Regions from separate parts of the Homo sapiens genome. Here region 2 is linked to region 1. Evidence: fine-mapped expression QTL. A gene starts in region 1. The other region holds a variant in brackets. All regions are shown on one strand. Distances are between the middles of the regions.

What was found. PIP is the estimated chance that this variant, and not a neighbour inherited with it, causes the effect.
Region 2: its variant is the best candidate, but not a certain one, in a credible set for the expression of ATRNL1 in sigmoid colon (GTEx, PIP 0.69).

Annotation. Positions count from the first base shown.
Region 1 is chr10:115,090,967-115,095,362 of GRCh38, forward strand. ATRNL1 (attractin like 1) reads left to right here and starts at 2,399. Exons shown (of 29, transcript NM_207303.4): 1 at 2,399-3,077. The coding sequence starts at 2,785. RefSeq lists silencers at 1,930-2,439, 2,470-2,599, 2,690-2,969.
Region 2 is chr10:114,951,576-114,955,971 of GRCh38, forward strand. The region is part of intron 3 of TRUB1 (TruB pseudouridine synthase family member 1); the gene reads left to right. Among named protein-coding and RNA genes, the nearest start is that of TRUB1, 16 kb to the left of the region's middle. RefSeq lists a silencer at 1,692-1,741. The variant C/A (reference allele first, on the strand shown) is at 1,817.

The DNA.
Region 1 (4,396 bases):
TATTATTATACTTTAAGTTCTGGGATACATGTGCAGAACGTGCAGGTTTATTACATAGGTATACACGTGCCACGGTGGTTTGCTGCACCCATCATCCCGTCATCTACATTAGGTATTTCTCCTAATGCTATCTCTCCCCTAGCCCCCCACCCCACAACAGGCCCTGGTGTGTGATGTTCCCCTCCCTCTGTCCATGTGTTCTCATTGTTCAACTCCCACTTATGAGTATATTTTTAATGGGCAAGCTCTGCTCAAATACAGGCTACAGTCAGTATGTGACTGAGCTGTGATCTCTCTCGTCAAAGGGACTACAGCGCACCCTTTGAATTACCTTCACACTCACTGACGGTTTTAAGAGTTTGGCCACTTTCCCCACGTCTGAAAGCGACTCTACCTTAGATGTGAGAAAGATGCGGCTGACTTTGGCTGGCAGATGGAGAAGAATGGAAAAGCAGCAGACAGTGTTCATGCATGGCTGACACTAGAAAGAATTCTTCTGGATTTCACAGTCATTGAAATGAAAAGATGTGATCCAGAACAGGATCTTCCTTTTAACTGGTGTCTGCAGTGTTCTCTCCTCTGCTTCTTCACTCATTTCAAGAAGTCTCTAAGGGGCAGCCTGATGTGGAAAAGATGTTAAGGGAAGAAGAGGGCATCCTAATTCTAGGTTTGATAAGGACATTTTTGATACTGGTAAAACCCTGAAATTATGGAAATTATGATTTGTTCTGTATGCCAACGAGAATCGTGGTTTTCCTTTTGCTCTTTTCCTTGCGAAGGAGCCAACTCCTTCTGGATCTTTGTTTTTATTTTTTCCTCCTTAAGTCACTGCTGAGGTATTTTTAAACCAAGCCAACACGTATATTTTATTCACCGAAGGAAGAACAAAGCATCTGCTAATAGAAGCAGTGAAAAAAGCACAGCAGTCAGAGGCCTCGTGTCTAAAGCTCAGTTCATTACTCCTAACCTGCCATTGGCCAATATTTCAACCTTTCTGAGTTGCTCTTTCTCATCTGCAAAATGGGGTTAATGGAGGATTTCATCTGCAAGTGGGGATAAGAGACATGAAAAGAACTGACGCGAAATAAACACGAGTTGAATCCTAACAATAATATTTTGACTATGTAGTTACAACAAACTTTTCTTTCTTCTTTTTTTTTTTTTCTGTGAGAAGTGCCTTTGGTGGATTTTGAATTCTTTTTCATACTGCCTGTTCTTTGGTGGGACTCCAGCAACATTGCTGTAACTCGAGGATATATGGCTGCAATGTGTGTTTGGCTTCCTTTCTCAAGGGGGTCAAATAAAAAGGCAACTGTTTAGAGAAGGCACCAAAGTACAAAACAAAAATCTCAGAATATGCCAGCCAATCTTGGAAAGTCATCTGAAGAAGAAAAAGTGCTGCTGAGGAAGGAAAACGGCCCTTTTGTGGGCATCACTTCTGCTCTTCTGAAAAAAAGCCCCGATGCTGCAATATTTTTCAAGGCAGAATATCGTCCCAGATGGAGGAGGGAGCACTGACAAGCAGAAAAGGAGAGACGTGCGGTTTCGAGGCAGCGTCTGTAAGGGGTGGAGAGCGCGGGGCTCGGAGCCTCGCAGTTCTTTGTTGGGGGCGCGGGCTTCGTTATTCCCGAGGCAGCAATGGCTCCCCCTCGGAGGTCCCTCCGCGGAGACCGCCTCGCGCCTCTCGCAGTCCCCAATCCCCGCCCCTCCCAGCCCTCGCTGACCCCACAACGTGGTCGGACTGCGGTGCCTTTAAGGCTTTTGCCTGCTGCACATGCTCAGCTCTTTGTGTGTTGTTGGAGTTTTTCTCTCTTAAGAGAAAAAGAAGAAATAGGCAGGAGGATGGGGCGGAGGAAGGGGGAAGCGCTAGGGAAAAAGCGTTGCACTTTTGCAGCTGCAGACGGCGGACGGGAAGGACTTCTTTTCTGCTGAAGCTGCGAAGCCTGTGTCGATCTCTCATTCGTGGGGCTCCCGGGGCGCGGGGTGCGGGTGGGGCCGGGGTGCCCGCACCGGCCGGGGGGAAGGGCACGCGGGCCACACCTGGGGGGCCTGTCTCCAGTCAGCGCGCGGGCCAGGCGGGGTGGGCGCGCGCGCGTGGGGGAGTCCCCGGTCCCTGTCAGGGGCGGGGCGAGACCAAGGCGCCGGGCCTGTGGGGAGGAGTGTAGGCGCGCGCGAGGGCGGGGGGCGGCCCCACGCATCGTGGGCTCCCGGCGCTGCCGCTGCGGCCGGCTCGAGGCACCGGAGACAGAATGGCTGCCGGGGCGCCCTTGACCGCCGGGCGGGCGAGGCGGGGCTGACCGCCGCCTCCTTGATCGCCCCCTTCCACGTTGGGCGCGCCCACTTCGGGGCGCCCGCTCGGCCCCCGCCCTCCTGGGCGCGCGGCGCTCGGAGCCGAGGCAGTTGGCGCGGGCCGCGGGCGAGGCGGGGCCGCGCGCGGGGTCCCCTCCTCCTGCCGGTCAGGTCCCCTCAGGAGCGCCGGGCGCAGTCTGCGCCTCCCGCTCCCCGCCTCCGGCCGGGTCCGGGACGCCGCGGCTGTGGGGTCGGCCCGCTAAGGACAAGGTCGGGAGACTGGGTGGCGATGCCCGAGTGCGACTGGAGGCAGCCGAGCGGAGGCGACGGCGGTTGGGATCTGTCCCTCCTGACCGGGGAGCGGGACTCGGACGGGCGCCGGTGAGGAGGAGGAGAAGCGGCGGCGGAGAGGTTTTCTGCGGCCGGAATTCCCTTCAACAGCATCCCTGTCGGCGCCCGCGAGCGCAGTCTCGCCGGGCAGGGGCGCCGGGGAAGATGGAGACTGGGGGCCGGGCCCGCACTGGTACCCCGCAGCCAGCGGCCCCGGGGGTGTGGAGGGCTCGGCCGGCGGGCGGCGGCGGCGGGGGCGCCTCCTCCTGGCTGCTGGACGGGAACAGCTGGCTGCTGTGCTATGGCTTCCTCTACCTGGCGCTCTACGCGCAGGTGTCCCAGTCCAAGCCGTGCGAGAGGACCGGCTCCTGCTTCTCGGGCCGCTGTGTCAACTCCACCTGCCTCTGCGACCCGGGCTGGGTGGGGGACCAGTGCCAGCACTGCCAGGGCAGGTTCAAGTAAGTGCCTTCGCCGGACCCCGAACCTCCAGCCCTGCCTCGCTCCCGTCGCGGCCTTCCCCGCCCCCCTCGCGGCCTCCCCCGCCCCCGTCGCTGCCTCTGATCCCCCGGCCGTGAGTGAACCTCAGCGCGCGGCGGGAGCGGGCGAGAGTGGGGCCCGCGCCGCGCCCCCTCCAGCCCCGGGGCGCCCCGGGAGAGCTCGGGCCCGCGCGGAGCCCTGACCAACGGGGAGCTAGGCATTTCTCGAGCGTTCCAGATGTCCGCAGCGACTTCTGATCCGCTGCTCAGCACGAACATTTTCACAATCAGTTATGATGCCCAGCACCATTTTCTTGGGATAATATTTAAAAATCAGAAATTGTCCAAGTTACTTATGAAATACATGCGCATTGTGAAAAATTCACAAAAGTGTAAAGGTTCAGTTATGATCTATGAGTGCCTCTCTCTTTCCCCATTCTCTTCTCTCTAGAGGTGACCCCTTCTAACATTTATTTAGTCATCATAGTGATGTTAATAAGTAGAGTTTATGATGGACTTGCTAAGTGCCAAACACTCTTCTAAGCGCTTTATGTCAATTTTCTCATTTATTCCCTACAACAACTCTGTGAGTTGCTAGAATTATTATGCTGGATTTACGGAGAGAAATCGAGGCGATACATTGAAGTAACTTGGCCAGGATTACACAGTAGTAAGGGCCGAGTTATGATTCCAAATCAGCTGGCACATTCTGGAGCCAGTACACACTCCAGAATGTGTACTTTTAACGAATTTGCTGTGTTGTATTTGCTAGGACAATCTTGAATTGAGAAATACAAAGGTGACTTTAGGTTAGATAGAAGGACGTTTTTATGTGGTGAGGATAATGGATTTTTTTCTGATCGGTTAATTCACTGTCAGCTTTTGTGCGGGAACATCGCTTTGGCTTGTTTGAAGCTCAAGGAGCCTAAGAAGTTTGCTTGCTAAGGTGAAGGTACTTTCTTCGTACTGGTTGGTGTTTATTACATTCTTGCCTGATATAAAAAGCAATGGGTCACAGTGTAGGGGAGTAGCAAAAGTCACTTAATATTGGGGCAGGCTTCTAACAACATGCAGGTAACAGTCATTAAGAAAGTCAGCTTCTTAGTCTTCTAGATACTTAATATGAAGTTTGCTGGCTGGTTTGTGGCTCTTGAATATTGTAGATTACTGATATTGTTAGGCTGATAGCCAAAATCTAGGTGAAATTTCTCTTGGGCTCTAAGGCAAAGGTAAGACTGGTTCACCTTATTAATGTATTCTAGGACAATTTCCTGGAATTTTAAACACAGCATACTTTCCTT
Region 2 (4,396 bases), 140 kb before region 1:
GGGCCTCTTTAAGATGATAAAGTATGTTCATATATGAGAGTAACCTTGAATAGATCCAAAAGCACTTTTCCAGGCACTTGATAGAAGAGAGAAGGGGTTATTTGGAGGCAGGAGAGGCTGGAAAGCTGTGAACTGCTGGTAGAAGGGGTCTCTTCCATCTCTCAAAGAGAGAGTAATATCTGTATCCTAATGAGTAATTAGGTGCTGGTTATAAGTGCTGGGACTAAGGGTCAATGAAAATGCACGTGGAAGGAAGCTTAGTATGCCAAGAGGTAGCGAAAAATTTCATTATGTTCCTGGAATAAACTTTGTTTTAAAACTCTTGCTCTAAATGTGATATAAATTGTTGATAAAATGATTTTTGTTTCTTTAAAAAAATCTGTTGTCAAAGACCATTTAAAAAACAATTTCCAGTTCATTGCAGACTGATTGATGACTTTTGTAAAATATAATTAAAATACGGCAATGTAAAATTGCTAAATAAGTTTCTACGCAATCTCATTTTCTGAACTTATTATAGATAACTGGCCTGTGGAAAACACTTGACGTAGTAGTGGTTTAAGTATTAAAATAAAAGCCCTGACCGAGCGTGGTGTCTCATGCCTGTAATCCTAATACTTTGGAAGGCCGAGGCGGGCAGATCACTTGAGGTCAGGATTTCGAGACCAGCCTGGCCAACATGGTGAAACCCATCTCTGTTAAAAATACCAAAAAAAGTATCCAGGCGTGGTGCTATACACCTTTAATACCAGCTACTCGGTAGACTGAGGCAGGAGAATCACTTGAACCCAGGAGGCGGAGGTTGCAGTGAGCCAAGATCACGCCATTGCACGCCAGCGTGGGTGACAGAGTGAGATGACTCCATCTCAATAAATAATAAGTAAGGTAGGTAGGTAGGTAGGTAGATAGGTAGATAGGTAGGTAGGTAGGTAGGTAGATAGATACATAGATACATAGATTGATTGATTGATTGATCGATTGATTTTAAAAAGCCTCGGAGAACATATTGCATGTGATGTCTCATTTTGGTTATCAACTGGCATAAAAATCTGTGCCATTCAATTGGAAGGAATCTTAGTGCCTCTGATAAATGAAAAGCTTCAGTGTGGCTTGCTCTGTAATCTTCAAAATATTGGTGTTGAAAAATTACAGAGTATAAAAATTGCATTAGAATGAAGGTGTTTGACAGTTTCTCAGTAAATTTTTATACTGTGCTTACTGACACATAGAGTTTAGAATCTGTTTCTGATACTGGTTTTTGCCAGTTGTTTAATATTTGTTTCTGAACTCCCAAAGATGAACAATGTTTACTTTAATATGGGATTATGGATGATTTTTTTTTCACATTATTTGGTATTTTCTAAAATCTATACAATAAACAAGTCACTTTTATGTTAATAATAAAAAAGATATATTTACGTTAAGGAATTTGTTTGGGTTTTTTTACCAAGATAAAATATGTTGAGTTCATTGAGATATTCGTTGTTCACCCCTCCTCCCCCAAACCACAAACACAGCACACTATATATTACTGAAAGATTTTACTTGTAAATTTCAGGCATATTTTCAGAAATATTATGACTGAAAATGTAAATACATCATTGACTCTGGTATAAATTTTGTAACAGCCAATTTGCTGTTCAGCTACGAAAGCTGAATGTCATACAGTGAAATCACTGATCCTCAAAATGACTGTAACATAAATAGAATACCACAGGCACGTCTTGTTACAGAAACCTAGTTCTTAGGTATTTCAAAAATAGGCATCGTTGTCTTGTTAGCTATTTATATTTCTTATCCTTTTAATTTTATGTAC[C/A]TGTTAAAAGAACTAAATCATTAAGAGTTTAATGTTGAAGATTATTTTTTAATAAAAAGTAGTTAAAAACTGTTAATAAATATTTTTTCTTTTTTTAAAAGCACTAGAAGGAATCTTAGAGATCATCTTATCTAGTGACTTTCAAAATTTTTTTGACTAAGACCCATAGTAAGAAACATATTTTATGTAATGACCATATAGATACATACATTTATGAAAAGGAAAAATTTTATCAAACAACTTTGTGTTAGTCTGTTTGTGTTGCTGTAAAGGAGTAGTCGAGGCTGGGTAATTTATAAAGAAAAGAGGTTCATTTGGCTCATGGTTCTGAAGTCTGTACAAGAAACAAGGTACTGGTATCTGCTTCTGGTGAGGGCCTCTGGAAGCTTACACTTGTGGCCATGTCGCATGGTGAGAGAGGGAGTGACAGAGAGAGAGGCGGAGGTGCCAGGCTCTTTTAAACAGCCAGATCTCGCGTGAACTCATTGCAGGGAGGGCACCAAGCAATTAATGCAGGATCCGCCCTCATAACCCAGACAATTCCCACCATGCCCCACCTCCAACACTGGGGATTATATTTCAACATGAGATTTGGAGGGGGCAGACATCCAAACTTTATCCAACTCTAACCCTATGTATGATGTATTCTTGATACTTTTCCTTCTATTTCATTAAAAAAAAAAATGTGGCTGCAGCCCCCTAACTTGGCCCAGATCTAATGTCCACTTTTTCTTCACTTCCTATTTTGACAGATGAATTTTTATTTGCATCACAGTGCAACTAGAAAAATTAGACTTCTGGTATGTGTAGGATGGAGTTACGTCAAGAGTAGAAATATTTAGTTCTAGGATGGCAAATATTCAGTGTTCTTGTTACAGCCATATTACAGAACAGCCTTCTCTCCCTAGCCAGTCGTAATTGGAGATATTGCTAATTGAACATGGCCTAACATTTCTTCTTGCTGAATCAAGAAACACCCTTAGAATCTTCTTCAACATGGTGCCACTTCATACAACTACTGTCACTTACTAGATGAAATTCTGGCTTTTAAGTAAAATCTTTAGGCCATCACATTATTTTGCTTCCATCTGTGAAGACTAGACACTAATCAGACCACCCAAATCATTTCTTGCATTTCCTCCCATTCAGATCAGGGTAAAAGTTAAGAAAAGAGCCACTGCTCTGTGTTCCTCATTGTCTTCCTCTCCTGCCTTGGAGTGAGCTTTGTTCTGCCAGTGATCATATTTCTCAAGTCTTTTTTTTTTTCCCTGTGCCTGATCATTTAGGATTATGTGTATAATGTGTGTGAAAAGCATGTGAACTTTTTGTACAGTGCCTTGTGTATGGAAATTGCTCATTAAATACTGTTATTACTATTCCCAAGTATTTTACTTATCCCCAAGTCTCTCTCTTGAGGTCCAGGCCTGTTGGAGCTTTCTAGCCACATGTTCTGTAGACACCTGAAATTAATTTTACTCAGGCAAGTTCTGTTGGAACTCTTGAATACAGTTAATTTCTTTTTTTTTTTTCATGGCTATCTGTGATTGCTGGTGATGTAGGCAAAATATTGCACTCATCAGAAAGAGAAAGCATGCCAGTTCTTTAAGGGAGAGACAGACTTTCCTTGGACATTAAAGCCAGAAAGAAGTTTCTGACAATAAGAGATATTAAATGACAGATAGATGGTGATTTTCAAAAATAGTTTTACAACAGATGTAGAAATGGAGCTACATAAAATACAGTTTAGGTAAAATTCTGAGAGGTTAGGCTGATGTGTTCCTTTGGCCTAAGTTGATCTAAGTATAAAACGTTGCTTACCTAGAGGAGGGCAAATAGCCCCTCTTATATCTTCCCTAAATTACACTTTCTTTGAGCCAGTCATTCAGCAAAAGCTGGATAGCAGATGTCGTACTTTGAAGGAACAGACAGAAGGAACAGAAGAAAACAGATGAGGTTTTGGAGTGCTGTCTTTATTAGTTTTCTATATTGTTGATCAAAGTTGGTTACTTTATAAATGCTTTAGAAACCAGATGGAAAGGTTATGAAAACCTGAATAATCTAACTAGCATGTCCAGATATAAAGGTACCTCCATATCTCTGTGCAGGTAAACCATAGTGGCACCTGCAGGCAAAGCCAGCATCTCCTCAGAAGGCAACTTTGTATCCCCCTCCAGTAGTTAAACAAGTGTCATCATTGGAGTGAATGAAGTTTCCCCTTCTTGGTGTGGTCAAAGGATAGTAACTTTCCCCAAGAACACAGTAACATTTTTAGGTTAACCAGTTATGAGAACTCTAAAGTGTGGCTTGAGTAATGCTCCTATGAAACTTAGCCAACTCTTGAAGATTTCAGCATTTCTAATCAGTTTTCTCCAGAGGCTAGTCCAGTTTGTACCTTTTCTATATACGCTATTAATTTTCATATATTTCATAAATACTGTATTGAAAATTTTAAAGGGCTTATACTTATGAACTATAAAAAAGGACTGTTCCTTCTTAATGAAGACATTCAAAGCCACATGTTTTTGGTTTGATAGGTTTTTTAAAAAGTGTTCTTTCTCATCCTCAGTAATATCCCTATTT